Homo sapiens: one gene and its partner. The protein of the gene in region 1 interacts with the protein of each later gene in a pairwise test. Each region holds a gene or a part of one and is shown on either strand. Other genes may lie near its edges. The genes, in order: JAKMIP1 and ARK2N.

Region 1 (12,540 bases):
TTTTGTGCTCATCTTCTTTGGTTTGGTTCTGACACCACGGCTGGGAAATTCATTCATTTTCTTGCCTGTTTTGGAAATTCATTTTTTCCCAGTGCTGTGTAATATCCCATTGACTAAATACACCTTTATCCATCCTATTGCTACATTTATTGCTCACAGAGCATGTTTTCTATCCTTTTCCTTCAGGGAAAGTGGGTCTTTATATTTAAAGTGTGACTTTTGTATCCACTCTGACAATTTCTGCCTTTTAACTGGTTTAGTCCATTTACATTTAATGTAACTACTGATATGACTCCTTTAATTCCACCGTTTTGCTGTCTCTTCTCCATTTGTCTCGTCTGTTTTTTTCCCCTGCTTTGGTCCTTCTTTGCTACCCTCTTTTAGTGCAAACAGATTTCTTTAGTCTCTCATTTTATTTCCCCATTTGCTTTTTATCTGTGCCTCCTTGTGCTGCCTTTTTAAACCTTGATTTGTCACAGCCTCCTTGAACTCATAGCGTCACGCACCCCCTCAGACAAGACTGAAGGACTGTGCGAGAGCACAGATCCATTTTCCACCAACCACCCCCACCCCATCCTTTCTAGATTGTTTTATGCATTTTACGTCTGCATATGTCATAAACCCCACAATACAATCTGATTCTTTTGCTTTAAACAGTCACTTGTGTTTTGAATACACTGAGAAAAAGAGATCGTCTCAGACATTGACTCTCCTTTACCCACTTCTCCTGTTCTTTATTCCCTTCCAAGAGAACTAAATTCCTATCTGGCATTGTTTCTCTTCACCTGCAGAACCTCCTTTAGCATTTTTGGTGGTACAGCCTCTGGCGACAAATAATCTTAGCTTCCTTTTACCTAAAATGTCTTTATTTCACTCTTATTGTAAAATAATATTTTTTGCTTGATGAGAAATTCTGAGTTAACAGATGTCTCTGTTTCGTTTTAGGGCACTTTAGTGTATGGGATGCTACCGAGGGGCACGGCTGCTCCACGTCCTTGCCATTTCTCAGCACTGTTAGCTTTTTAATTTAGCCATCCTGGTGCCTGGGCAGTGTTGTTTCATTGTGTGCTGTTCTTCCTCTTATAAATATGCTCCTTTTAAATGCAAATACAAGATCCACCATTAAACTTTTATCAATCCTATTTAAATTTCCAATTTTTCTTGTTTTAAACATTTTAGAGTTTAATTTATAAATCATGAACTTCGCCGATTTTTAGTAAGTCTTCCAAGTTGTGGAGCCATCATTATAATCTGTTTCAGAACCTTCCTCGCCCAGTAAGGTCCCTCACACTCATTTACAGCTAATCTCCATTCCAACTAGTCCCCGTCAGCCACTATAGATTTGGATATATAGATTTGGCTATTCTGGAGATTTCATACAAATGCAAGCATACAATATGAGGTCTTTTGTGTCTAGCTTCTATCATTTAGCATAATGTTTCTGAGGTTCAGAAATGTTATAGATATTGAAGCATATATCAATATTTCATACCTTCTCATTGTTGAATCACATTGTGTTATATAGACATGCCACATTTATCCATTCACCAACTGAGGACATTTGGGCTTCTCCCATTCGTTGACTATTATAATGCTATAAGCATTCATGTACAAATCTTTATATAGATATGTGTTTTCATTTCTCTTGGGTAGATACTTAGGAGTAGAATTACAGAGTCCGTAGGTGTCCTTTTTTTAGACTTTTTAAGAAACTACAAAACCATTTATCAAGGTGGCTATACCATTTTAAAGTCCTATCAGAATGACGGTACCCATTCCTCCACATGCTAGTCAACATTTACTATTGTCTGTTTTTTTTTAATAGTCATTCTAGTGGATGAGAATTTATATCTAGTTGTAATTTTACTCTGGTTCCCTGATGATCAATGAGGTAGAACACCTTTTCACATATTTGTTAGTCATTTAATTATCCTGTTTTTGAAATATTCTTTCAAGCTTTTGCCCATTTTTGAGTTTTCATATTATTTTATAGTTTTTATAATCTGCACAAAAGTTCTTTGTGGTTATAGGTATTGAACATGTCTTCTCTCAGTCTGTAATTTGCCTTGTCTCTCTTTTATTAGTGTCTTTTGATGAACAATGATTATTTCATGTCCAATGTACAACCCTCTCTGAATAGTATATTTATGTAAATAGTGTACTGTGTCCTGCTTAAGAAATATTTACCATGTCCCAAGATCATGAAAATAGTCTGTTTTCTACTAGTAGCTATATTGTTTTACTTTTTACATGTAGGCCTATGGACCACTTTGAATTAATCTTTGTGGGTAGTATGATATAGACTTCATACTCTATATACAGAGAGTGTGTGTGGTGTGTGTGTGTGTGTATTTCCTGTTTTTTTTTCTTACAGATAGCTGACCAGTCCAATATTGTCCATTGAAAGATCATCCTCTCTATAGTGAACTGCCACGGTATCTTTGTCCACACACGTGAAGATGTACTTCTGGGCTCTTCTGTTCCATTGACGTGTCTCTCTAACCTTCAGCCTACTGTCTTGATTACTGTAGCTTTGTAGTAAACTTTGTTATAGGTTGTATGAAACCTCCAATTTTTCTCTTCTTCAAGATTGTGATTCCACATCCTTTCAATTTTTACATCAAATTTAGAATCTGCTTGCCGATGTCTGCATTTAAAAAGTCTGCTGGTGGCTGGGCGTGGTGACTCACGTCTGTAATCCTAGCACTTTGGGAGGCCAAGGCAGGTGGATCACTTGAGATCAGGAGTTCGAGACCAACCTGGCCAACATGGCAAAACCCCATCTCTACTAAAAATACAAAAAAAAAAAAAAAAAAAAAAAATTAGCCGGGCATGGTGGCAGGCATCTGTAATCCCAGCTACTCGGGAGGCTGAGGCAGGAGAATTGCTTGAACCCAGGAGGCAGAAGTTGCAGTGAGTTGAGATCATGCCACTGCACTCCAGCCTGAGCAACAGAGCAAGACTCAGTTAAAAAAAAAAAAAAAAAAGAGTCTGCTGGGATTTTGGTAAGGGATAGCACTGAATCTGTAGATCAATCATGGAAAAACTGATATCTATACTAAGTCTTCTAATCGATGAAAACGATATCCCTTTCCATTGATTTAGATCTCCTTAAGTTTTTCTCAGCAATGTTTTATAGTTTTCAGGGGAGACATCTTACACAACTTTCCTTAGATTTATTCCTAGGTATTTGAATTTTGTGGTGCTCTACTGTAAATGATATTTTTTAAGATTTCATTTTCTAATTGTTCACTGCTGATATATTGAAACAACTTATTTGTGTGTATGTACCTTGTATATGTAGACTTTGATAAACTCACTTATTAATTCTAATAGTTTGTAGGGTCTTGCCATGTTCTGAATGTGTCTCACAAAAATTCATACATTGAAACTTATCATCAGTGTGATAGTATTAGGAGATGGGGTCTTTAAGAGGTGATGAAGTCATGAGGGCAAAGCCTTTATGAAGGGAGTTAGTGACCTTATAAGAGAAATATGAGCTGCCTGCCTCTCTTTTGTCATTCCACTCCTTCTGCCATGTGAGGACATGGCATTCAAGGCACTGTCTTAGAAGCAGAAACTGGACCCTTGCCAGATAGTGCCTAGATCTTGGACTTCCCAGCCTCCAGAATGGTAAGAAAAAAATTTCTATTATATATAAGTTACCCAGTCTGTGTTATTTTGTTATAGCAACAGTAATGAACTAAAACAGGTGTCTTGGGTTTGCTACATCACAACCATAGCACCTGCAAATAATGAGTTTCCCTTTTTTCTCCCTCTCTAAAGACTTTTTTTTTTTTTTTTTTTTTTTTTTTTTGAGAGGGAGTCTCACTCTGTCGCCCAGGCTGGAGTGCAGTGGCGCGATCTCAGCTCACTGCAAGCTCCACCTCCCAGGTTCACACCATTCTCCTGCCTCAGCCTCCTGAGTAGCTGGGACTACAGGCGCCCACCACTGCACCCCGCTAATTTTTTGTATTTTTAGTAGAGATGGGGTTTCACTGTGTTAGCCAGGATGGTCTCAATCTCCTAAACTCGTGATCTGCCTGCCTCGGCCTCCCAATGAAACTTTTATTTATTTTATTTTATTTTATATTTGACATCCTGGCCAATGCAATGTTGACTAGAAGTGGTAATAGTCAACATCTTGTTTTGACCTTGAACTTGGGTGGGAAATGTTCAATATTTCATCATTATGTATGTTACTTGTAAAAGATTTTTGATAGAACCATTTATCATATTAGAGAAATTCCATTCTTTTCCTGGTTTTCGGAGAGTTTATATCATGAAGTTGAATTTTACCAACAGATTTTTCTGCATCTATTAAGATGACTGACCACGTTTTTCTTTTTTATCATATTATTATGTTGAATTATATTCAGTGATTTTAGAATATGAAGCCAATCTTTATATTTTCAGAATAAACCCAGCTGGGTTATGACTTATTAGCCTTCCTATGTATTGCTGGATTTGATATGTTAATATCTTGCTCGTACTCTTGTATCTATGTTCATAAAAGGTAATCCAAAAGTTTTCTTATCCTGTAATGTTATTGCTTTTGGAATCAGAGTTACACTGGCTTCATAAGTTAGTTAAAATGTGTTCCTAATTCTCTATTTTCTGGAAGACTTTGGCTAGAATTAGTTTTACTTCTTTCTTAAACACTTGAAAGAATTTACTTGTGAAGCCATCTAGGCCTGGGCCTTTCTTCATAGGAAAATTATTCATTACAGATTTAATTTATTTAGGAGCTTTAGGACTACTTAGATTTTCTATTTGTTTCATGTCAGTTTTGGTACATTGTGCTTATTCAAGGAATATGTTCATTTTATCGAGGTTTCAAGTTTATTGGTATATGCTGTTTGCTGTGGTTTTATTGACTGTAGGAGCTGTGGTATTTCCCCCTTTACATTTTTGATATTAGTAATTTATTGTCTCTGTTTTGCTTTATCAATATTGCTAAATGTTTGTCAATTTATCAGTTTTAATTAACTCTTGAATTTGTTGATTTTCTTTATTGATTTTATTTCACTGCTTCTTGCTCTTTAAAATTTCCTTCCTTCTACTCTCTGGAGTTTAATTTGCTGTTCTTTTTCTTTCTTCTTGAGATAGAAGTTTAGATGCTTGATTTTCAGCATTTCTTCTTTTTGTCTAAAATATGTTTTGCTCTAAGGACTAATTACAACCCACAAATTTTGAAATGCGGTCTACAATGATAAAAGTATGTCATGTCCACAGTATTCTGCAGTTGTGGAATAGAGTGCTCTGTCAGGTAAGTTCACGTTGGTTAATTGTGTTGGTGAAATCATGTCTTTATTCATTCTTTGTCTGTGTGTTCTACTGTTTGCTGAGAGAAGCGTGTTCGTCCCCAACCGTAACTGTGGATTTGTCTGCTTCTCCTTTTAGTGTTGATAATTTTTTTCTTTTATACATTTTGAGGTTTTGTTATTGAATGCATTCCCACTGAATTGACCCTTTATTATTAAGAACTGTCCTTTTGTGTCTTTAGTATTACTTCTTGCCTTAGAGCCTTTGACATTAATACAGCCAGACCAGCTTTGCTTTTAGGAAGTGCTTGCACAGTGTATCTTTCCCCATCCTCTTATGCTCCATGTCACCATGTCCTCATAATTAAGATGTCTCTCTTGTAAATATCACTGTTACTCTTTGATCCAGTCTGAAAATCTCAGCTTACTTTACTTCTTAGCCTCCTGCCCCACACAGCTTCAAAGTGTGACAAACGCCCTGAGGGGCAGACTGGTCATGTGTTTGTGGCGGGCCCCCTCCCTTTGTCTCCTACGTCCAGTGAGGGCATGGGAGCTGTCATTCTGCCTTTCCAGCTGGGCTCGCCAGCCTCCCCCTTCACTCCAGGACTCAGGAGGATCTCCTGTGCAGCAAGCTGGCCTAGGTGGGGCTCCTCTGGTTTCCATTGTTTCATGCCCACTCTGAGATGGCAGAAAAGTCCTACTCATCTCTCTGAGGACATCCAATCCTCAGCCCGCACCCAGAATCCACAAATGCCCCAAGGGAAGAAAGCAGCTGGCAATTAGGCCGCCCAGGCAGGGCTCTTTCCCCTTCCCTTTGGAATTTTAGTTCATCCACACTCCACAGCTTCCACAGATCTCCAGTATCTTTCAAAACAGGACTATTTGCAATTTATATGTTTCCCTTGCTGTTGCAGCCAGTTGGCCGGCCTGCCCTGACCTGTGGCATCTTACCTGGAGATGGAAGTCTGCTCATGGTTGTTGAAGTAAATGAATCAATAAATGCCCGACACTTAGATACGCTATCACGAGGCATTTGCAACAACCCTCGCTAGTCTCCATTAAGCTCCTTTGACAAATGGGGAACTGTTCTTTGAGCGGATTACCTGCAGCCCCAAAGCCTCCTTACCACACCTAAGACGGGAGGGAGGTTGCTGGGGCCCCAGTGCTTTGAACAATGCCTGGAGCACAGCAGGTCCTCGGAGCTCCGCATTTCCCCCATGCGTGCAGGGAGGGAAGGCCGCGTGCCCGCGGGCGGGGGAGGGGGCGGCACGTACCAGCCTGCGGATGTCGCGCTCGCACTCGCGCTTGATGCGGTGCACCTCGTCTTGGTGCGCCTGGTAGGCGGCACGCAGGTCGGCTGCCTTGGTCTTGTCAGCCTGCATGCAGTTACTGAGCGCCTCCTCTGCCTGCTTGCGCGCTGCCTTGAGCTCCAGGATCTCCTGCTGCAGCCGCAGGCGCTCTCCATCGAAGGCCCTGCGCGCCTCCTCGCGCGCCTCGGTCAGCAGCGCCGTCTTGACCTTGTCGGCCGCGCCGTCGCGCAGCACGTTCAGCGTGGCCTGCAGCCGCTGCAGCTCGCCCTCCTTGATCTTGGCGGTGCGCGCCGCCTCCTGCTCGTGCTGCCGGATGAGCCCCTCGCGCAGCGCCTGCAGCTCCTTGGTCTTCTCCTCATGCAGCTTGGCCTTGAGCTCCGAAATGTAGGCCGTGTGCCGTCGCTGCTCCTGCTCGCGCTCCAGCTTCGCCTCCTGCAGCCGCTCGCGCAGTTTGCCCACCTGCAGCCAGAGCGGCGAGAGAGCCGGTCAGGGTCAGGGTCAGGGTCAGGGTCAGGGTCAGGGTCACAGCTGGGGGAGCTGGCCACAGCCTCCCCACGCCCAAGACACCCACCTGGGCCCACGTTCCCATGGATTCCCCCTTCGGCAGTGCCCTGCAGGCCTGACCCTCCTGCCAGCCCCACTTAGAATCTCTCCTGCTAGTTCCCTGAGACTTTCCCTGGGGGTGGAAACCCCCTGAGGATGCTGGAGAGGCATTCAAGCCTTTGACATCTCTTCCAGGTTGTAAATTGAGACGACTGCTCAATCACAAAACACACCCTGCAGAAATCATCACCAAGACCCAAAAGATTGTAAACCAGAAATATATTTCCAGGGCCCCATGCGCGGACTGTGGAGTTGGAAAAGACAGACCAGGCTTCTAAGTCCTGGGGGGCAGTGAGCAGGGGGCACCATTCTTGTTGAGTGGGGTCCCTAGCTGGGCTGGGGGCTCCAATGCATCACCCACATTGCCACATGAACCCCTCACGGTCTTGGGAAGGAAGTAGCGTGCTCCCTCTCTTTCTCCCTCTCTCCTCTCTCTCTCTCTCTCTTCCTCTCTCTCTCCTCTGTTTTATCATGAGGCAGCCAAAGATCAGAGACAGTCTGGTGAGCTGCCCAGGGTGAGGGATGAGGACCCTGTGCTACCAGGCAACCCACCCCGCCTTGAGCCTATTCATTTTATCAGCAAACAATTCAAAACATTACTTATAAAACGTCCCAAGGGAGTGTGTTCTTAAAACACTTCAAAATGCTTTCTTTAACCTTTTTGTTTCAAATATCACTCAACACACATTCCACAGGAACGCCTGACAAGCCCTTATTTCCTGAATTCTGCCCGTCTCTGAAGACCTGAAATGAATTGCCTCTGGTGGACAAGCTGCTTCCAGGGAAAATGGCAATGTTTTTCCCCAGACCACACTGTTGATAGCATAGTCACATGTTAAAATTAATTTTAGGTGAGAAGTTTTACAATGGCACCTGAGTATTGATAAATCCTTACTTAAAACAGCAGGTAAAAAAGCAAATAAAACCAACCCAGGCAAACACACAAGATCAACATCTCCTTTCACCAGATACTCACAATCATAGGAATGAAGCCAGGCGACCAGTCCATGTTCTGTCCACCTTACCCTGGGGGCAGCAATCAGCATCTTTTCCTAGTGGATTTAGCAGCAGGAAGCCAGAACTTTAAGTATTTAACAGAATTGTCCCAGTTATGGACAAAATGGTTTTGACTGTTCTCCCTCCTGCGAGGCAACAGTCAAGTCCCTGGTTAATGCCGACAGCCATCTGGGGCCAGCAGGGTCAGATCCAATGAGATCCTAATCTGCTTTGATGAGCTGCGTTTCCCCAGGCAAATTTCTCTGCCTCTATGGTGGCTGATGTTGTGGGTCGACTTGGCTGGGCCACAATGCCCAGTCGTTTGGTCAAACACCAGTCCAGATGTGGCTGTGAAGGTACATTTTATAAGAGATTAACATTTACATCAGTAGACTCTGGGTGAAGCACGGTGCCTTCCACAATGTAGGTGGGCCTCATCCAATCAGTCGAAGGCTTTAAGAGAAGACCGAGGTCCCCTGCGGAAGAAGGAACTCTGCCTCCCGGCTGCACTGGGACTCGAAGCTGCAAGATCAACCCTTGCCTGAATCTCCAGCCTGCTGGTCTGCCCTACACATTTCAGATTTGCCAGCCCCACAACCGCATAAGCCGATTCCTTAAAACTAACGAATAACCTCTCACTCTGTGGGGGGTGTGTGTGTGTGTGTCACAACCTATTGGTTCTGTTTCTTTGAAGAACCCTGACTACACAACCTTCCAGAGCTCCAGTTTCCTCTACTAGGAAACAGGGATGGCAACAGCTGCCCCTCAAAGGCCCGTTGAGAGGAGGAAGATGAGGTGACTGTGGGTGGGTGAATGGAAGTCTGTTGTTATCGTGGTTCTGACTTTCTGCATCAGGGGTGGGCAGCCTCGTGTGAGAGACACAGGTAGAAAGGGGGTGAGGAACATGGAAGGGTGGGCAGAGGCCTGTGCAGGGCAGCCCGGGGCGTCTAGGGGCTGCTTCCTGGGAGGGGCAGAGGTGCTGCTGAGGCTGGTGATCCAGGTGTGTAGGGCAGGGATGGTGACAGAGAGGCAGGGGCCTGGGGACAGGGCCCTGCTGGGTCCCTCCAGCTCTGCCCAAAGCTGCTGAGAGCCAAGCCCAGGTGACATGACCTATGCCACAGAAGCAGCAGAGTGAGGCTGGGGTGACCTCTGATGGGCACAGAGCACTCCCTCCCACCACCACTCCATCCAGCTGAGCAGGCCAAAAAAAGCCGCCCAGCACTTTACCTCCAGGTGCCTCCAAGCTACCCCAAGTGTAGAGGCACCTACACCAGCCGCTCCTCAGCACTTGGACTCTAAATGCAGCCACGGCACAAAGGCCAAGAGAGGGAGCATGCCCTGGGGGTGTGGGGGCTGGCGTGGAGAAATTATCTGAACCACCAGCACCACCCTCACTTGCCACTCCCACTCAGAGAGTGAGTCAGATTCACCCCTTTCCATCCTCATCCTCATCCAATCCAGCAGCACTGGCTCTCCATGTCCAGGCCTGGCCACTTCCCCACTTCCCCCTTGCCCAAGCCACCTGCAGCAGCCCTCCCCGCCACACCCTCCATGCTCAAAGCCCTCTAAATCTCATGGGTACCAGTTCACTACTCTGAAACCATCATACATGTATAGTGTTGAACAAAGAAAGTGGATGGCAGAGGGGGAAGCCAGGTTTCCCACTTGGAGTAAGAGGTTACAGACAAGCAAGAGGAGGCTGAAGGGAGCCATGCGGCAGTGGATGCGTCTTGGGACATCTGTAAGAACTCATGTTTGACTTTGTATGGATATAGATGTCATATATGGAAATATTTACAGGTATGCGTACATACGCAGGTCAGTATACACATATATATTCCTTGTTCTGGCAGCTGAGAGGGCCTAGAAACAATGACACCGCAGCAGTGATGGGCACGCCTGGTGCCTGGATCTTTGTTTCTAATGCCATTCTCCAATAAAAGGAACCAGGACCCCTTAGAGAAACTGCTGGGTCTAGCGCTGGGGTAGGAAATATACAAGATGTGCCTGGGGCACCTTTTTTTTTTTTTTTTTTTTTTTTTTGAGTCGGAGTCTCGCTCTGTCCCCCAGGCTGGAGTGCAGTGGCACGATCTTGGCTCACTGCAGGCTCTGCCTTCCAGGTTCACGCCATTCTCCTGCCTCAGCTTCCAGAGTAGCTGGGACTACAGGCACCCGCCACTGCGCCCGGCTAATTTTTTTATATTTTTAGTAGAGACAGAGTTTCACTGTGTTAGCCAGGATGGTCTCGATCTCCTGACCTCATTATCCGCCCGCCTTGGCCTCCCAAAGTGCTGAGATTACAGGCATGAGCCACTGCGGAGCCTGGGGCATCTTATAATGCCAGAAAGTAAGGAAATGCTCCACAAAACCCCCACAAAACTGCCCCTGTGAAGCCTTGGGTTCTGCTTGTCCCTGCACTATTTTCTAAAACCTCTGATGGAATGTGCCCAGGGCTGCTGTATTGCTGGTTTCCTGTGAGGCTCTGTACCCATGCGACTTGAGGACAGGGTCTGTCTCTGAGTTACTTCCAAACACTTCTCACTCAGCCCAGGCATGGAGCATGCATGCCAGGGGTTTGCAGATGAATAGACAGACACGTTTACCACCCTCCTTCATCCTACAGTGTTCAACAGGGATGCTTTGCTAAAATGCCAGCACTTTAAATGGGACATTGACAGTGATTGTGAGATCATATCAAAGTAACACTTCAATGCAATTGTAAAGTTTGCATTTATGTTTTTTGTACCAGTCAATAAGCACATTACTGAATTCTCAGAGAATTGAAATTCTCCCAGCAGCCAGATGGGTAAAGTCAACCTGAAGCGGCCACATGGATGGCTGGATTGAGAAAATAATCAGCCAGCGTGCATCCAAGTGGAAATTGCCACACGTCCCAGAGGCAGGGAGGCAGCCTGGTAACAGGGAGGCCCAGCCTGGGGTCCGCATGGGCCTGGCTTTCAATCCTGCAATACCACCTACTGTGCTGGCCTCGTGTGTGGGGCTAAACTGTGTCCCCCTGAAAATCATATGTTGAAGTCCTAACCCCCATGACCTCAGGATGTGATTCCATTTGGAGATAGATCCTAATGAGGTCATTAGGGTGGGCCCTAATCCGATTTGCCTGGTGTCTTTGTAAGAACAGAAAATACAGACATGGACAAACACAGAGGAGAAAGCCATGTGAAGACACAGGGAGAAGGCGGCCGTCTGCAAGCCAAGGAGAGAGGCTTCAGAAGGAGCCAATCCTGACACCTGGATCTGTGGCTGCCAGCCTCCAGGACTGTGAGACAGCAATCGTCTGTTGCGTAAGCCGCCCTATCTGTGGGACTTGGTTACTGCAGCCCTGGCAAGCTAACACACCTGGGCAAGTCCCCGCCCTCTCCAGCCCTTGGCTTGCTCACCTGTAACACGGGGGAAGCCACACCTGATCTCTCAGGTCACTGCCAGGGTCATGACACCCTCTAAAGCACCTGGTGCTATCTGCACAGTAGGCATGTAAAGGTCACCCTGATGGTCATGTGAGCGTATGACAGGCAGCACCCAGGCCCTGTGTGTGACTGTCTCATTCATTCCTCAAACAACCCAGGAGGCAGACACCTTAGAGGTCCCCATCTACAGATGGGAAAACTGAGGCAGGGGGTTACACAGCTTATAAGACCTCAGGCAGGGGTGGTGGTGGAGAGGGGATTTGAGCCCAGGCAGTGTGATATGAGTGAGCAGCTTTCCCTGTCACCACAGCTGCTGTAGCTATGTCCAGATACAAGCTGCCAGCCCTTACACCCCCAGCCAGTCAGCCCCAGCCCCAGCCCCGGAGGTGACCTGGCCTGTTGACCTGGCTAAAGGGTGAACAGGTCAGCATCACCAGCATCCATGTCTAAAAGAGGCTGGATGCACTCGGCCTGGAATCTTGAACACCTAGGGATGGAGACAGGTGCATCTGTCCCCAAGTTCCAGAAGCCCAGTCCCCTGGTCCAGAACTCAGCCTCTGCTCTGTGTGGCCATCCTGAGCTGGGGTTGCAGCCAGATCCCAGGCCCCAGCCCCGTCCCCACCTGGAAGCTGGATCTGGCCCAGCACTCCATTGGCGACCTGAGTCCCAGCTCAACAAGACAGGGACGCCTGCTGCAATTCCCCAAGCAGCCTCCACCCGTCACTCCAGGTACTACAGCAGGAGCCAGAGGGCACCTTCGGGGCTTCAGATAGACCTTCAACTGCTCGAGCCACCCAGGAGCAAGCCTGCATCTCCATGCTCTTTCTGTGCTCAGCCTGGCTGGCAGCTCCTCTCTGGGCTCACAGAACCCTGGGCTTGCTCTACCCTCAAGCCCACCCAAGTCAGAAGCAGGCCACCAAATAGGACTGCAGCTGTGCC
Region 2 (12,540 bases), on another chromosome or scaffold:
TAGTAAGAAAAAACACGTCAGAAGAAAAATGTGCAAAGAATATGAACAGACTTTACCAAAGGAATACAAATAGCTAAACGTTTTTCAATTTCACTAGTGATCAAAGAAATGCAAATTAACATCAAAATACCTTTTTTTTTTTTTTTAATGGAGTCTTGCTGTCACCCAGGCTGGAGTGCAGTGGCATGACCTCGGCTCACTGCAACATCCACCTCCCAGGTTCAAGTGATTCTCCTGCCTCAGCCTCCCGAGTAGCTGGGACTACAGACGCGCGCCACCACACCCGGCTAATTTTTCTTTTTTTTTTTTTGTATTTTTAGTAGAGATGGGGTTTCACCATGTTGGCCAGGCTGGTCTCGAACTCCTGACCTCAGGTAATCCATCTGCCTCAGCCTCCCAAAGTGCTGGGATTACAGGCATGAGACACCACACCAGCAAGATATCATTCTTCTATCAAATCAGCAAGCTTTTAAAAAAAATTAATATTCAATAGCAAGAATACAATGCATGAACACTCAAGCTCCCAGGTGAAATAAACTTATTTTTGTTTTTGTTTGGATTTTTTTGAGACAGAGTCTCGCTCTGTCACCCAGGCTGGAGTGCAGAGGCTCAATCATGGCTCACTACAGCCTCTGCCTCCTGGGCTCAAGCAATCCTCCCACACCAGCCTCCGGAGCAGCTGGGACTACTGGTACATGCTGCTACACCTGGCTAACTTTTGTATTTCTAGTAGCGATGAGGTTTCACCAAGTTCACCAGGCTGGTCTCAAACTCCTGGCCTCAAATGAACCACCTGACTTGGCCTCCCAGAGTGCTGGGATTACAGGCGTGAGCCATCGCACTCAGCTTAATTATTTTTTAAAAGCAGTATGGCAGTATGGCAGTATGGCAGTATGTGGTCAAGAGCCTTAAGTGTTCATACCCTGAACGTATAACAGCAAAAACTTAAAAGAGCCCAAAGGACCATTAGGGAAGTTATTTTTATAATTAGCTAAATTATTCAAAATCCATATGTTCTAGGGAGAATATTTAGTGTTCTGGTTAAATGCTCAAAATGCAATATTAAGAAGGAAAGGACGACATATGCAATACCCAGACAAATTTTGTTATATATCATGGAAGACAACATATTCAAATGTTAACAAAAGCAGAATTGTGGGTGATTTTAACTTTCTACTTCAAATATTTCTATTTTCAAAAATTTCTACAAAGAATTTGTCACTTAAAAATATTTTTTAAATTTCTAAGCAAGAGTTAACTGATCAAGCATAATAAGTTAATTATCTCTACCAGAGAAAAAAACTATGAGGTAAGATGATAGCTGGTCATGATGCAGCTCACTGCATAAATATGTATGGTGAGTAATGGGTGCTGAGATTTTGTCTTGAAGTGGGGCTGAGCTGGTCTAGCCTGGCTGCATGGATTGAGAATTCAAGTAAACTTAAACAGCTGTCCTCAGTAGCCTCAATGACATTCTCCAAAAGAAATGAGATTTTCAAAGGCAAACAAACCAAGACAACCGACTCTTACCTGCCACGAGGGGTATTATTTTTGGAACTTCGGTGTGAATAAGCATTTAACCACAAAGCAGGTCATTAAAGACAAGACAAGATAAAGCTACCCTGTATGGAGGTCCACTCTGCTAAATATTTATGAAAAACAGTTACTGGAAAAACTTTTCCCCACTGACCATGTACACCGATGCACGTATGTTAGTATGTTCAAAAAATTAACTTTTTCAAACTGAATGAAGGCTAATGTCCATTATTTACATTAAAATCAAAATCCCTCCAACTACAGATTTTATAGAGCTAGTCTCAAAACTGCTTTTACAGAGAAACTGACCCCCCATGAACAGTAATACTCTAATCATAAAACTGCAGAGCATGATCAAAGCACAAAAAGATAATGCATAAGGAAACCACTTGATAATGGCCGGGCGTGGTGGCTCACACCTGTAATCACAGCACTTGGGAGGCCAAGGCAAGCGGATCACAAGGTCAGGAGATCAAGACCATCCTGGCCAACATGGTGAAACCCCGTCTCTACTAAAAATACAAAAAAATTAGCTGGGCATGGTGGCACACGCCTGTAGTCACAGCTACTTGGGAGGCTGAGGCAGGAGAATCGCTTGAACCTGGGAGGCGGAGGTTGCAGTGAGCAGAGATCGCGCCACTGCACTCCAGCCTGGTGACAGAGCAAGACTCGGTCTCAAAAAAAAAAAAAAAGAAATCACTTGATAAAAAGCCTTGATACTCAAGATAACCATCACATAGTACTTTTACATGAATTCACTATAAAATATTATAAATTTACTATAAAATGCCCTTTACTCAACTCTAAGTCTGCCAAATGAAAGTACTGCCAGCATTATTTTGATATGATACCTCCAAACAGATTCTTAAAACATCAATATATTTCCAAAAACTTCAAAGAGAGATGATCTAGTGCCGATACTAAGCTGCCTGTCAGTTAACTGCTAACTTTAAAAAATCGTCATAAACATCTGTTGCCCAGATATCAAACTCAATTAAAGTATGATCATGCACTACACTGGTCTGCATTATTAATTATTTGCACTCTCTAAAAGAATATGCATTAACAGTTACAATTATTTGGCATAACATTTAGGATTAAGGTATTAGGATATCCTAACAGGAATTATTTAGGATAATGCCTTCAACTTTTAAGCTGAGCCCAAACAAAAGCTTATAAAGAGCATTTTCTGAATTACTAAATTGGTTGTACCTTAATGAAAGAGTATGGCAATAATCGGTTTTTACTTTTCCACTTGGTTTCCATTCTGTGTAAACAGCTGAATTAACATTCCGACATCCAAGAGATTCTGTTAGGCCCATCCAGCTTAAGTTCACCTGAATGTCCATGTTGTTGAACTCAAGTCAGTTCATAATTTATCCTACCTTTACAATTTAGGCAACTTTTCGACAACTGCTCTTACTATAAGGTTGAACGTGCCTCCTCTCTTCCCCAAAGTCATAAGGTGACTCAGTAAACTGAAAGATACATCACTGTTACATTAAAAATTCACAATGTCACAATTTTTCAAGAGACAACAATATGGACAATTGAAATGAAATTCCTAATATTTGAACTCTAAGTTGTTCCATTTTTGCTGCTTTGCATAATTCCAGTAAAGATCATTCATACCTGTCTTATGGGAATGGCAGGTATACCATAAGACCTCCCAAAACTGCCAGCACACACACAGGCAGTCACATACAGTGACCCTGTACCTCAATCTACCATTTGATTCTCCAGGATTACCTTAGAAAACTATGTGTATTTTCAAAAGCCACAAAGTTACTAAATGGTGTGAACAATAGAAACCAAACTATAGATTCAAATTAATTTACTTTGGTGTTCAGTTAGTACACAATTCAGAAGAGACAAGAAACAGACACTGGTGTTTTAAGTTTTAAGCAGTGGTCAAGATACTCAATTAGAAAGAAGATTAGGAAAATATGAACAAAGCACATCTAACCTATTTAAGCAAAACAGGGAAAGTGCCTATGAAGACATTTCTCAAGCCACCTTACAATAGGGTTCTGACTTTAAATTTTGTTTACCCACCTTCTTCCTTTCCACAAAAAGGCAAAGTATTGGGGTAGTTACATAAAATCCTGCTTAGTAAGTGGAAGTAAGTATTGTATTAAGAGTTCCATCAAGGTCTTGATTAAGAGGTTAGAAGAGGATATAGGAATGCACAATTTTACAGGTATTAATAAGGTTTTTTTAAAAATATTAATACATGTAAAACTAAAATATATACCTAAAACCTGCCTTAGAACAACCCCAAAGTCTGTTTCTCTCATACATTTAACTGATGAGCTTCATTGAAATCCCCCTCCCGGTAGTTTTATTACAAGGAACAATAGCAAAGGAATCCAATAGAGATATTAAAACAGTAAAAAGCATTTCTAAAGATCGTTTGAGACTCATATTTATATTATATGGACAAGACTTATTATCAGAACTTGAACACCTATAAAGTGCTTTAAAACCAATCATTCTTGTTACTGAATTTATATAAGTTTGGGAAGCTATAGATTCCATTAACCAATATGATTTCTCTTGAAATGTTCTTTGTATATCAGCAATATGCTGTCTTCACATGTAGAAACAGAAAGCTTTCAGAAAACAGGGAGAGAAAAAACATAGTCACCCATAAAACTTTAGAAAACCCAAACTTGCCCCTCTTCAATGTGGCAATAAACAATACTGCCATGACCTATTCAATGCCATACAGTTTACAAAATGTTCCTGATCATATTGTAAGGATCTCTTGGATAATAAGAATTCACTACTTAAGAACCATTCAGATACATCTTTCTTCCACTATGAAATCTCAAGACTGCCTTTGTATTATAGTACACAGTACCAGATGCAATAAGAATGGGGAAAGCAGATTTACCAAATATGTAATAAGTTACAGACCCTTATACCAATGAGAGCTAGAACAAGCGGATTTCTAACAAACTTTTTTAAAACTTGGGGAACTAATGGGAAATTTTTCAGAAAGACATTCTTTTCAACGTGAGGATAGAAAGATTTGTAACAAGGATAACTAGCTTCTCATGCATTGAATATGGGGGAAACACATAAAACTACTGTTTTTGGAGGAAAAATTATTAGAAAACTTTAACAAAAGATAGAATGTGTTATTTCAGACACTATAAGCTCAAGTGCAGTGGCTATATAATAAAGCAAGGTGCCTATTCCTGAGGAGAATGTACTCAGTAATGATGCCGAACAGTGAGTATTAAATCTAAGCAGTGCCAAAAAGGCAATGATTGGGAGTTCAGGTAATGTGTTACAGACAGACTTATGAGAAATTCCATTACTTAAAAATAATCTTGTCCCTATCATTAACCCTTTAATTTTGTTTTTCCTGATGTGCTAAAGTTCACTGGAAACCTCAGAACAGGTTTTATAAATTGGCCATGTCTTGTTAATAGACTGCAGTCTTCAAATTTACACAGAGCTGCAGGTCTCCTGGATTTTTTCAAGTGTCACTCATCTAACTGAACCTGATAGCTGAGAAATGCCATCAGGTACTTTACAGTCAGTTTAAAAAACATCCTCTACCTGGTATCTCTGCAGTGATTGTCTTGCTGCTCCCTGAAACCTCTTCATCATCATCTGATGAGCTCGTGCTTGAGTCACAAGTCAGGTCACTATCACTGGTACTACTGTCCTGCAGCAGGTTATATTTCTTCCTTGCAGCAGCCTCCCGTTTCTGCCTCAGTAGCCTGATCCTCTCCTTGTGCTTTTGGCTCCGATGACCTTTAACCTTGGCGACTCGGCCATTCTGTTTATCACTGGATTGCCGGTTTTTCTTGGCAGCCATAGTGGAAGTTTCACTTTCAGATCGGGACCGCCTAGACTTGCGCCCAACTGTGGCACCAGACACTCCTGAAGGGTCTCCTTCTACCGCCGTTTCTGCCTGAGAGGGTTCATTCTCTTCTGCGGAAGACAACGTATCTGAATCAGCCAGGTGACCACTAGAGGAAGGGGAAAGCATGCAGTGATTAGAGGAGTCACTCTCATAAACTCGGCCAGTTGTAGGCTTGTCACTCTCTGTGGATGCTAACTGAGACTCAGAAGAGTCCCTTCTCAGTTCCATCAACAAGCAGGGCATTGAAGAAATAACTGTAGAATCCGCTACACCATCTTTCTGAACTTGAGATTCCAGTTCTACAGATCCATCTTCCTCCTTGGCTGTCTCTTGTTCAGATGCTTTTGGTGGGGCTTCGGACTCAATGAGTTCTTCAACTTTTCCCACTGCCTCCTCCATCTTCATTTCAGAATTTCAAGTTAAATCATGGAGTAGAGTCTAGGAAATGATATCAAAGATGCAACAGGAAAGCAACCTGTACAAAAACACACAAAGTCAATAAACAGAATGCCAGATTATTTAGTCAACACAACATGCCTACCTTTCTAAGTGGGTGGGGCAAAACTTACTATTACACAGGCCTTTAAAATATATATATATTATTATCTGCTTGTTTGATCAACAGTCAAATTCAAAGGACTTAATACGGTCAAAATCTAAGCATACTGAGCTACTAAAAATGCCATAATATTAATCCTCTAACTTGAAAGGCCAACATGTAATGAACATTTTCAAGTTTACAATTTTATTTAAAGTGTTCTACAAAGAAATCTTCAAAACTCTGATATAATTAATATGCATTCATTGACTTTGATATAAATGAAAAAGAATGCTTTAAAACTAGTCTAGAAATGCATTACCTGGAATGACTACTTTTACATTCAAATCCAAAAAGAAAGGAGGTGGGAGGAGGGGAGTTACAATAGAGAAACATCAAATGTTTTTGTTTGTTTGTTTGTTTGTTTTTGAGACAGGGTCTTACTCTGCCACCCAGGCTGGAGTGCAATGGTGCAATCTCAGTTCACTGCAACCTCCGTTGCCCTGGCTCAAGCAATTCTCTTGCCTCAGCCTTCCAAATGGCTGGGACTACAGGCGCACACCACCACACCCGGCTAATTTTTGTATTTTTTGTAGAGACAGGATTTCACCATGTTGCCCAGGCTGGTCTCGAACTCCTGAGCTCAAGTGATCCACCCACTGTGGCCTCCCAAACTGCTGGGATTACAGGAGTAAGCCACCGTGCCTGGCCCCTACATTTATGTTTAAAAAAACAAAAACACAAACACACTCCAACTACATGCATTTGGCAAATGAGCAACCAAATACTATGCATCCAACTTGTCTGCAGTCCCCTCAATAGGAGTTGCTCTAGTGAAGCATTAAGATGAAAAGCCAGAATTTGATGCTTCCTCAATCCTACCTAGCTCCCACATACCTCATCATGCTGAATTTGAGTCTAGTGTTTAAATAGATGTTTTATCCACAATGGTCACTAAATACAGAACCCAGAAAGCCTAGTATATTCTATGAATGAATAAAGGGATTTAAGAGAAAATACTCTACACCCATTGTACACTTTGTATGCTAAATTTAGAACCTAACACTCTACCACCACTGTGAGTGATACAACTCCAATTAACCATACAGGTACAGGACATAATATTTAACCTCAAAAGCTTATGACCTATATACAGTTAAGTCCTTACTTAACATTGTCAACAGGTTCTTGGAAACTGAGACTTTAAGTGAAATGACATTTAACAAAACCAATTTTTCTCATTAACCTTATAACTAAAGGACATCATTCAAAGACCAGCAGTATCTTGTTCCATTTAAAGTCGCAGTTTCCAAGAACCTATTGAAAATCTGGTGGTTTTTAAAGAGGATGCTAAATATGGAAAACAAGTAAATACCTTGCCCTGTATGTGTTACATTACAGAAAGCAACTATCATGTCCATAGGTCACAGACACACATAACCATTATTCTATACGGTATGCTAGGTGCAATATGGCATCTCCATCATCTCACTCCATCAAGTTACCTAGATAGTTCAATCTATAGCAGACAAAAACTAGGAAATATTTGCAAAATCCTTTAAAACAGATCTAACATGCCAAGCCCACTTTTTGCTTAATACAAACATAAATATTCTATATGCCTGTTGTTTTTCATAGCCCTGTTCTCAGCTGTTGATAAAACAGGCATTCTGATTAAGTTTCCTTAACACATTCATGGAAACCAGAACATTCATGGCCACTGAAACATCTGTTAATTTAAAACAATCCTAGGCCAGGAGTGGTGGCTCACACCTGTTATCCCAGCACTTTAGGAGGTGGAGGCAAGTGGATCACCTGAGGTTGGAAGTTCGAGACCAGTCTGGCCAACATGGTGAAACCCCGTCTCTACTAAAAATACAAAAATTGGCCAGGCATGGTGGCGAGCGCCTGTAGTCCCAGCTACTCGGGAGGCTGAGGCAAAAGAACTGCTTGAACCTGGGAGGCGGAGGTTGCAGTGAGCCAAGATCACGCCACTGCGTTCCAGCCTGGGTGACAGAGCAAGACTCCATCTCAAAAAAATAAATAAAATAAATAAAAAATAAATAAAACAATCTTGTGTGTAGCCTACTTCACAAGCATATTTGTATCAATTATAATACTAATGTTGGAGGCTAAGTGAAAATCAGCATAAATATTTTTTCTGACACCATTACAAAAAAATGTAACACCTCTGAAAGCCAACAGAGGGAGTAACAGTTAAACCAACGGAGACCGTTATAAATAAAGCATGCTGTCAATACAAACACGAAATAAAATATTCACAGATACAAAATACCCCCAGGTATGAGGAATAAACCCAAGTTCTTTTTTTTAAGCCAGTCAAATTTAGCAGTGGGGGGGACAAAGATTTTCTAACTGAATAAAAATGAGAGTTAATTCTATTATGGAGATTCAAATTGTATATTCTGGAATAATGATTCTTCTTAAGGCTGGGCACGGTGGCTCACGTTTGTATTCCCAGCACTTTGGGAGGCCGAGGCAGGTGGATCACGAGATCAGGAGTTCAAGACCAGCCTGGCCGAGATGGTCAAAGCCCATCTCTACTAAAAATACAAAAATTAGCCAGGCGTGGTGGCAGGCACCTGTAATCTCAGCTACTTAGGAGGCTGAAGCAGGAGAATCACTTGAACCCGGGAGGTGGAGCTTGCAGTGAGCCGAGGTCCCGCCACTGCACTCCAGCCTGGGCGACAGAGTGAGACTTAGTCTCCAAAAAAAAAAAAAAAAAAAAAAAAAAAATTCTTCTTAAAGCTAAAATATCTGAGAAAATATACTCAGATGGAATTAATGTCAGCTATATAGGACAAGCATCAAAAGTCTCAATTTGTGAAAGAAGGCAGCACTGGATATTTTCAAAGTACATAATACAGCATCAGACTAAAAAGTAAATTTGTTAAAATGACCATACAACGCTTGTTTCTTCAAGAAATAAGTTGTGTGGATAAAACAGGTAAATCTAGATTGTTTTTCCCTGTTAAAAAAAAATGACAATATGGCACATCATTCAATTTAATGATTATCTTTCAAGTTCCTTAAATTTGAGTGTTAACTGAGATTTAATTTATACTACCTAAATTAGTAACCGGTATTGCAGTCAAAACCACTTAAATATGCTCAAATCAATCACAAAAGACTAGTATTGACCACAAACAGGACAAAAGTTAGCTCATCATGGTATGTTCATACAATGTGGCCATTAAAAAAATGAGAAAGCACTTTATATAGAGAGGTAAGAAACAGTTCTCACGCAATTTTAATGAAAAAAGATACATTATAGCATTTATGTAAATAAATAACAAAACTATATTTACATGAGTTTATCTGTAGATGCATAGACTCTGGAAAGATACTTAAGAAAATAGTAATACCAGTTGAGAAGGAAAGCAGGTGAATAAGGGAACAGGAGAAGACAGTGTGGTATGCAGTTTTGTATCTCTTGAATTTGTGATGTATACAAACATTATCTATTCAAAAATCCACTCTGACATAAAAGTCTTCTGAAGAAAAAGAAGTTGTGCTTTTCTGGGGCCATAACACTAGACTACTCTTTGGGTCAAGCTTAGTCAATAAATTCTACTATGCTTTCTTCCTATAGTGGAATTTTGCTATAATTAATTAAATACAGGAGAAAAAAGTCACAGAAAGTGAAAATATAAGCTCTGACTAAACTCCCTTCAGTGGAATAAAAACGAAGTGCCCTAACCACAGGGGGAAATGATGTCATACATAAAGATTAATCTTTCCATACAACCAGATTATTTACTGCATATATTGTTTTTGGTCAAGGGGAAAAAAATAGGTTTTTCTGGTAGGAACAGTCAAGTAGCTAGCAGTATAAAATGATATAATTGTCAAATAGGAATTGCATCACATAAATGGCATAAAAGGCTATCAACCCTCTGGGTTAATGTTGACAGTAAATTTATATTCAGTGAAGTAATAAATACACAACATTTTTCCTATTAGAACAGCACTTTCCCCCATGCTGTTCTTCCCTCCAATCTAAACGCAACCTCCTCTACATGAGTACTAGAGCTCATCTCCCTCTCATTTCCCTAATATCTTACATTATTGATTATTCCTTGGCTCTCGTCCACCTGCCACACCCAACTGGACCATTCATTCATTTTTGAAATCCTCCTTTGACCTATCACCTTCAATCTCACATCTCCCTCTCCAGGTATCATGCTCGTCTTTCACAGTCAATCTTATTGTGAGAGTTGTATAAACTTCTATTTCCTTAACTCTCACACTCCCTTCTGCAACCCAATGCAACCTGACATCTCCTTCTATCAAACCAGTGGAACAAGCCTAGGCAACATGGCAAGACCCCATCTCTACAAAAAATTTAAAATTTAGCTGAGCATGGTGGCACATGCTGTGGTTCCAGCTACTGGGGAGGCTCAGCAAGGAGAATGCCTTGAGCCCAGGGGGTCAGGGCTGTCATGAGCCGTGTTTGCAACAGTACGTTCCAGGCTGCATAACAGAGCAAGACCCTGTCTCAAAAAATAAAAACAAAAGTAAAAAAAACCAGTGGAACATTTATTACCAGGGTCATTAATGACCTCACTATCTCTAAATCCAACATATTTTGGCCCTAATTTTACTTAATATTTAAGCAACATTTTATGCCTGACGACTCTCTCTGCTCTTTAAACCAATTAATGCCTTTCTTTGGCTTCAAGGTTTCTCTATTCTTCTGGTTAGTCCTTCCCAATCTACTTTGTAGGCTTAACTTCCTCTACCAAATCTCAGGATTTAATCCTAGGTCTAGGTCCTTTTCCCATCCACCAACGTGAGTTCTTTTTTTTTTTTTTTTAAGACAGGGTCTCACTCTGTCGCCCAGGCTGGAATGCAGGGGCGCCATCCTGGCTCACTGTAACCTCTGCCTCCTTGGCTCAAGTGATCCTCCCGCCTCAGCCCCCTCAAGTAGCTGAGACTACAGGTGCAAGCCACCATGCCTGGCTAATTTTTGTATTTTTTGTAGAGACGGGGTATCACCATGTTGCCCAGGCTGGTTACACACTCCTGAGTTCAAGTGATCGACCCACCTCGGCCTCCCAAAGTGCTAGGATTACAGGTGTGAGCCACAATACCTGGCCCAAAGTGAGCTCTTCTAAACCCACATTTTCCAATACCATCCCTAGACTAGTAATTTTATTTCTCCAACTCAGATCTCTGAGCTCTATACCAGTCCACCCAAATACCCAGTTGACATCTGTATTTAGATTTTGGAAAGGTACCACAATCACATCATATTCAAATCCAGATCATCTCTGATCTACCCCACTCTGCTCCTTCTCTGGCTTTCTCTAGCTCAGTAAATAGTACTACTATTGCTATTATCTCAGTTGCTCATGTCAAAAGCCTGAGTTATCTTTGACAATGCCTTCTTCTTTACTCACTGCATCCCATCATTCACCATGTCCATCATTCACTAACTCCTATCAATCCCACCTCTTTAATAGTTTTCTAGTCTGTCCACTATTCTCCATATCCGCTGTCACCACTCTAGACACAACCTCCATCATTTATTTTCAATAGTATTGACTATCATCACCTGTCTCTTCAAACTCAGTCTTTCTCCTATGCACCAACCTGTTCTCTACATAGCAGGCAGAACAATATTTCTACAAGGTAAATATGTTCTCTTTATGAGAGAAAGTATTTTTTTTTAAGTCCTAGAAGGTAGGGTAGAGGAGGATGGGTAAAGGCAAGTTGAGATTTATCTGATGTTTTTCTCTCCTTTTAAAAGGGGATTAAATATTGCTTTTTGATCAGTGGTGAATGTGGAGGAAAACAGATTATATGCAATAATCTGAAAAAACAGTTTGTTGGCCAGGCACGGTGGCTCACGCCTGTAATCCCAGCACTTTGGGAGGCCGAGGCAGGCGGATCACGAGGTCAGGGGTTCAAGACCACCCTGGCCAACATAGTGAAACCCCATCTCTACTAAAAATACAAAAATTAGCCGGGTGTGGTGGCGGACGCCTGTAGTCCAAGCTACTCGGGAGGCTGAGGCAGAAGAATCACTTGAACCCGGGAGGCAGAGGTTGTAGTGAGCCAAGACCACGCCACTGCACTCCAGCCTGAGTGACAGAGCAAGACTCCATCTTTAAAAAACAAAACAAAACAAAAAACAGGTTGTTAATTATGGACAATGAAAATGAATTCACTTTTTAGCCCTTGTACTCTTTAAGAAACTAAGATGACAAAAGATGTGTACAGCTCAAAGAGTTAAACCATGGAATTTAAGCAGTATACAGTGCTCAAACAGGAGACAGGAACTATAAAGTATAAAGCTGAATGAGGCTACTTGTGAAAATCTGGAAGAGAAAAGTTGAGGAAGTTCATATCAGACCTCCTTCTTGGTCAGCAAAGCTTAATACAAAGTGGAAAGAAGGCAGGCTTGGGGGTTTGTAAAAAAAAAAAAAAAAAAGTGGAGAAGTATTATAACATCTGCTACAGAGAATCTGACAGAGATTAAAACTGCTGAGTACAATAATTCATATAGTCAGAACAATTCACAATGCTCAATTTCCAAACTATGGGATTAACACAAACTTAA

Evidence for each region.
Region 2: the proteins of JAKMIP1 (region 1) and ARK2N interact in binary tests that used the Homo sapiens proteins (3 or more experiments, as listed by UniProt).

What each region holds. Positions count from the first base shown.
Region 1 is NC_000004.12:6,098,935-6,111,474, forward strand, and holds part of JAKMIP1 (janus kinase and microtubule-interacting protein 1), read right to left. Parts: intron 7,034-12,540; coding exon 6,539-7,033; intron 1-6,538. UniProt on the Homo sapiens protein: Associates with microtubules and may play a role in the microtubule-dependent transport of the GABA-B receptor. May play a role in JAK1 signaling and regulate microtubule cytoskeleton rearrangements.
Region 2 is NC_000018.10:46,209,162-46,221,701, reverse strand, and holds part of ARK2N (protein ARK2N), read right to left. Parts: intron 5,892-12,540; 5' UTR 5,822-5,891; coding exon 5,107-5,821; intron 1-5,106. UniProt on the Homo sapiens protein: AMPK substrate important for exercise capacity and skeletal muscle function.